Regions from separate parts of the Homo sapiens genome. Here region 1 is linked to region 2. The links come from fine-mapping of genetic effects on plasma protein levels. A gene starts in region 2. The other region holds a variant in brackets. All regions are shown on one strand. Distances are between the middles of the regions. Region 1 overlaps PRKG1 (protein kinase cGMP-dependent 1). Region 2 holds the start of PRKG1 (protein kinase cGMP-dependent 1).

Evidence for each region. A credible set is the group of variants that fine-mapping cannot tell apart. PIP is the posterior inclusion probability: the model's chance that the variant is causal. Protein levels are from antibody-based Olink assays in UK Biobank. Linkage for the fine-mapping came from a reference panel and not from the study's own genotypes, which makes the PIPs less certain.
Region 1: its variant is the best candidate, but not a certain one, in a credible set for the plasma level of the PRKG1 protein (UK Biobank, PIP 0.69).

The regions. Positions count from the first base shown.
Region 1 is chr10:51,917,596-51,920,506 of GRCh38, forward strand. The region is part of intron 5 of PRKG1 (protein kinase cGMP-dependent 1); the gene reads left to right. Among named protein-coding and RNA genes, the nearest start is that of CSTF2T, 220 kb to the left of the region's middle. The variant A/T (reference allele first, on the strand shown) is at 1,627.
Region 2 is chr10:51,072,902-51,075,812 of GRCh38, forward strand. It overlaps PRKG1 (protein kinase cGMP-dependent 1), which reads left to right and starts at 1,586. Exons shown (of 18, transcript NM_006258.4): 1 at 1,586-2,000. The coding sequence starts at 1,690.

The sequences.
Region 1 (2,911 bases), 840 kb after region 2:
CCTGATGGCAAAGTATAGTATGAAATTTTAAGTATTAACAAAAATAATACATGTTTTAAAAGTAGGCATGTAAAAGAGATTTGGTAGGGATGTTGTAGATACTTACACGTTGATTTAGTGGTTGAACAATATTAACTTTTTAGCATCTATCTGAGATTCTGTATTTAATTCTCAACAAAGATCTTCCTAGTTCTAATTCTCAGTGATTTTTATTTCTCTCCCTATAGAGAGGTCCCTCTCCCATATTTTGTAAGTCAATTTAGCCATCATTACATAGAAAAAAACAAATGCTTGTTCATTGCTTTAAATTGGTGTCTAGTTATGTGAACATAACTTGAGATATAAATTCCTTAAAAGCAAAACTATATTCATATTTCCTTTAACTGGGTTCCTATATGCATTTGATTAAAACAACAGTAATACCTTCCACTTATTGATGCAAACTCTGTGCCAGGCTAAGGCCATTTGTCTAATCCCATCTGAGTAATAACAATAGTACTATTCTTATTATTCCTAGTCCCAATGTGCAGGTGGGAAGACTGAGCCTCAGATAACACAGCGAATTAAATGGGGAAGTATTTTACCCTATGCAATCCGACCCTGGAATCAGTACCTTTCAGTACTATACTGCATTGTAACTTGAAAGTTTGCGGAATTAATAAAAGAAAAACTTCTCCCACCCCTGACTCTTTCTTTTAAATAGGTTGTACTTCCTTCTGAAAATATCGACTTGACTTATTTTTTTTTTATTTTTTTTTTTGTGAGAGTAATTAGCTTTTTCTCAGTCAGCATTTTAAATTTGTTGTGACAGGGATCCATTTTATGCTTTCCACGAGACCCGAAACAAAGTGTTTCTAGACATTTTATTGCCAGAATATGCATGCTTTGCTCCATGCTGCTTGTAATTCATTAAAATGTATGTGCTCTGCAAATAGGAAACCAATCTGCAATAAATCAGCTTTCTAGAAAACATTCATGGAAAGTGTTCGAAATGGTTGCTCTGTAAGAATACACAAACCTGCTTGGTATTTGTGTGATTTGCTGTCATTTATGGGGTTTGTAAACAAATAGTGGATTTGTGTGAAACTGTAAATTAGTAGCCTGCCTTCAGCATGTGTGTGAGATCTGCTTACAAAATGCCATTTGATAGCATCTGAGCAGATCACGATGAGCTCCAAATTCCTTTTACAGGGACAAGTGATGCACACTGGTCTGAATTAGATAAATTGCCCTGACCCAAGATTTTCAACTATTTTTTTTTCTTAATCCGAGACATATTTGTAGCTGCCAGAAAACCTAGCTCACGGGCTTGTACACAGTTGGCATCTAAGGCATAAATCAATGAAGAATAGAAGCCCACTCGTGCTTACAAGTAACAGGCTAAAGATAAGAAAATCAGTTGGGCTTTCAGTTTTAGCCACAGAATACAAAGCTTGTTTGTGCTAGGGAGAGTTATCAAACAACGTGGTGCAGGAGATAATGTGGGTATTCAGTTCCAGGCCTCCCCAAGACCTTTGACTACAGAGTACTTCTCTGAATCCATAGCAAGGGCAACCTACTGCTTCCCTGCGGAAAAGGAATCATGCAGTTCCTTAGGCCAGGGGGTATAAGTCTGTTTCCTGGTAG[A/T]TAAGGCTCTGAACCAGGGCAGGCAGTATTTTAGTAATGAGCATTCCTCAAATCAGTCAATGTTAATGAGGAACAAACCGTGACCAACCAAGGCTTTAGGGAGATGGCAGTTGTTGTGAGAAAGGATGTTCTGTTTGCCTCATGTTCTACGTGTTCCCTTAATTATTATGAGATTCTGTAAGTGAGCTCCTCTTCACTCTCTGGGAAGAGCTACCATTCTTTTTTATTACTTACACCTAAAAATTATTATTTTAATAAACGTAACATGATTTGTCTTGTAAATAGACCTGCTGTGCAATACCATTCTGCAGATTTTTTTTTTTGCTTTGACTTTGTGCAAATCAGTTTACATTACAGATGTTAATAATTGCTAGGCATGAGAGTGTTGTCTCTCCCTGACTCCTCTTTCCTCTTCCAAAAATGTTCTTTAAGGTCAAATTGAACAGCCCCCCACCTTTTTTTTTTAAAGTGGCTTACCCTGACTAATTCTACTCTATCCTGTTTGTTGTTTTCTTAATCCTTTTGTACAGTTTGTACTACAAAGCTGCATGCTTGATCCTATATTGCCTGGAACTTGTCTGTCTCCCAGTTTTCTGTAAGTACCTAAGCACAGGGTATGTCTTAACATATATCCCAAGTTTCCAGCACAGCAAGGATTTGTGGAAGAATTATGCCTGGTACTTATTAAATAAACAATAAATATTTGTTGAATCAGAAGTCTGAGTAGGCTTACAATAAATGCATACATGCTACCCGAGTGACCCAATGAATGAAACAAAATTGTTCTGTTTTGCATTTGGATGCTTTATTACCACAACTAGATTAAAAATGCATCAAGGACAGGGAGCATGCCTTCTGAAATACAAGAACTCATCATGAGGGCATGTAGAGTAGAGGTTGCTGGTAGGAGATTGTCAAGGATACACAATCAAGGTGGAAAACAAAGAAGGTGTGGGAAGCTAAGGACAGAAAGATCATGGGAAAGGAATAAGACTCATTTTTCTTCTATCATCCTTCTCCTTTCCCTATCCATCCCAGGGAGATATAACAAAGGCCAAACCTTTAGAAGGATATTTTGAAGAAGAAAGAAACTTTTGTAGAAGTTGTTGATTTTCCAGTATAAGGCCCCGGGGAGAGAGCTGAACTGTTGTCAGTTACTGTTCACTCCACAAGGATGTGAAGGCCTCTGATAGCCATCTTGCCGATTTCCCAGTTACAGTTTAGTGCTTGCCTATGGGAATCTCCTAATTAACAATCTTACAGTGTTCATGTCTTCTCTCTTTCT
Region 2 (2,911 bases):
TTATTTTGATACTATTCTTTGCTAAGTTTAGAATTGCATTGCAATTCAATTTTATTTTCTGTCCACTTTGTTTTAGTGTTAAGGAATAACCAAATAGAGCATTGAGGATTATAATATTGAGTGCCCAAGAATAGTAATCAAAAATCTGCCAATAAAGATGCTATAAAATTGGATGAGTTCGTAATGTCTTAAGCAAATATTAGGGATTTAGGTACGTATTAGGCAGATATTTGGGGATTCTAAACATGTGTTCCCATGATGGGAGTGTAACACTTGGATAGAAAGGAAGTTACCTAATTGTGATCATTTTGGGGAATATTGAGTGGGCAGGGATGAGGGTGGGAGTGGGTAGAGGTGGGGGTGACTGCAGTATAGTGTACAATTCACTGCAGCCTGCGTGGTCTCCCTCGCTCCTTCACGATTTTCCCTCTTCTTCAAAGTTTGTGTCAGGATGTCTTCCTGGCCATTCAAGTGGAAAGATACATTCCTAACAGCTTGGTTGTGAGGAAAGTAATATTTTTAAAGGTATGATTCAGTTTCAAGATGAAATTTTTGGAGCTCGGGAATGATTTTTAACCCCCACCCTCTCCCCGCCAAATTCAGCAAATGGAAGAAGCAAGGCCCATCCGAGAACTATTCCCAGGCACCAGCTCAAGGCGGAGGGCTCATGGGGAAGCTGAGTGACCTGCTAGGGCCCAAATCCGTTTTTGGCCTTTGCCCTAAAACAGTTCCCCGATGAGAGTTTGGAAGGGGCAGAAAGGAAAGTAACTATCTGGAGCAGGCGAAGAGTAGCAACGCCTCGGGTGCTAAAATCGGAAACCCCACCCCCTACCCCACAACCCTTTCCCAAAGGTAGTAGGCTGAAAGGGGGAATTCCTCGCGGGCGCCGACTCGCTCGCATCTCCTGAGAGGCAAGTTTCTTCGCAAGCGTTAGCCACCTGTGTGAGGCGCTCTGGGTGGGAAAGGTGGCGTGGGAGAAGCGACAGCTCGGCCACACCGCTCGGGAGCTTTCCTTAGTGAGGCCGGCCGTCAAAATACCTCCAGAACTCAGAGCTTTGATGATGCAGAGTCCCCTATGCCTCGTACGTCGCTAGGATCGTAGCTCAACATTCTCCAGGCTGGTCTGCTCTGGAGTCAGCTGAGGCCTCCCGAGTTTGCCCGGGGTCCTCCCTGTCCCCTCCCTCCCACCTCCCCACCCCCGAAGTAGCGCTCCCGCCTCGCTCCACCCGCACACCCCCGGCGCGCCTCGGAGGCTTATCAGGCTCCCCGCACGCCCCGCAAGCTTCCTTGGGCGCCCGGCGCGAGGGACTCTGAGAGCCCAGCCGCTGCCTCGGAGCCCCCATTCACGTCCCCTCCTCCCGCTCCCCCGCCACCGCGCCTCCGACTCTTCTCCCCCGCGCCGCGGCGCCCACCGCGTCTCAGGTTTAATCCCGGGTTGGACCTGCTGGTTTGCTCTCCCCGCTCTGAGCCTCACAGCCAGCCCAGAGAAGTGGAATCTGCACTGAAACTCTGGGTGGCTGGAGCCGGCGGACTGGGCATGCTCAGAAGCCAGGGCTGGCTTTGGTCTCAAGTAGGAAGCTTTGGCACTCGGGAGGCAGCGGCGACTTTGGGGAAAGTTGATCGGAGAGGGGAGGAAGCCTCAAGACGCGGAGCAGCGGCAGGAAGGAGCCCCCGGCAGCCCGGAGGAGCATGGGCACCTTGCGGGATTTACAGTACGCGCTCCAGGAGAAGATCGAGGAGCTGAGGCAGCGGGATGCTCTCATCGACGAGCTGGAGCTGGAGTTGGATCAGAAGGACGAACTGATCCAGAAGCTGCAGAACGAGCTGGACAAGTACCGCTCGGTGATCCGACCAGCCACCCAGCAGGCGCAGAAGCAGAGCGCGAGCACCTTGCAGGGCGAGCCGCGCACCAAGCGGCAGGCGATCTCCGCCGAGCCCACCGCCTTCGACATCCAGGATCTCAGCCATGTGACCCTGCCCTTCTACCCCAAGAGCCCACAGTAAGCAGGGGTGACGCGCCGGGTCCATGTGGCGCCCTGGCGATGGGGAGCTGCGGGTCTCTGTATTGTCTGTCGGCCCCCGCCCCTCCCGCTTGCCATGTCTGTCCTCATCCTCAGAAATGTTTCATTTTAACGGGCACTTCTTGCGGGGCTGTGCACGTTTCTCAGAGCCAGACTCACTGCACATACGTTGCCTTCGTGTCTTTGTCAGATGTCAAGGTATTATTTTTAAATATACATATACATTCGTATAAGCCACCTAGTGTACGTAGAGTTTGAACACGTCCCAGGTGTGTGTCCGACCGTGTGTGTGAGTGTGAGAGAAGAAATAAAAAGCCCCCGTCTCCCAAAAGCCCTGGCAAACCAGCCCAGCTGGAAAATCCTAAATGCAGGCTCATCAGACTTGAAATGAAATGCGTCTGATCACCCATACTTTCTATGCTTTTGTGGCTCTCCCGGATTTCTCTACCTGCTGGCGCTTCACGCTGGTACCCTTCAAACCTGACGTTCTTGTCATCATCAAAGTGTGAAACATAAGCAAATAGGCATAGAAAAAGGAAGAATTTTTGATTTCCTGAATTGGATGACATTTACAATCCATAAATGGAAGACTAGTCTGTTGATTTTGAAGAAATATTTTTTCATAACATATGAGGGAGAAGATTGCTTATTTTACTTAAGAAACGTGCATAATGTTACTAATGGAGCATCTCCATCTCCCAAGAGGTGGTTGCTTGTTTCCAGGGTCAGATACAGATAAGCACACTTATCTTATTTAAAACGTGGACCCATTGTTTGCCTTACTCTTGGCTTCTAATGCAACCACTCTGGCATTGTTCTAGCCTTTTAGGGAACTGTGCAATTCTGATGTTAGTGGGCTTCATAACTTGGATGGGAAAAATTTAATGAAA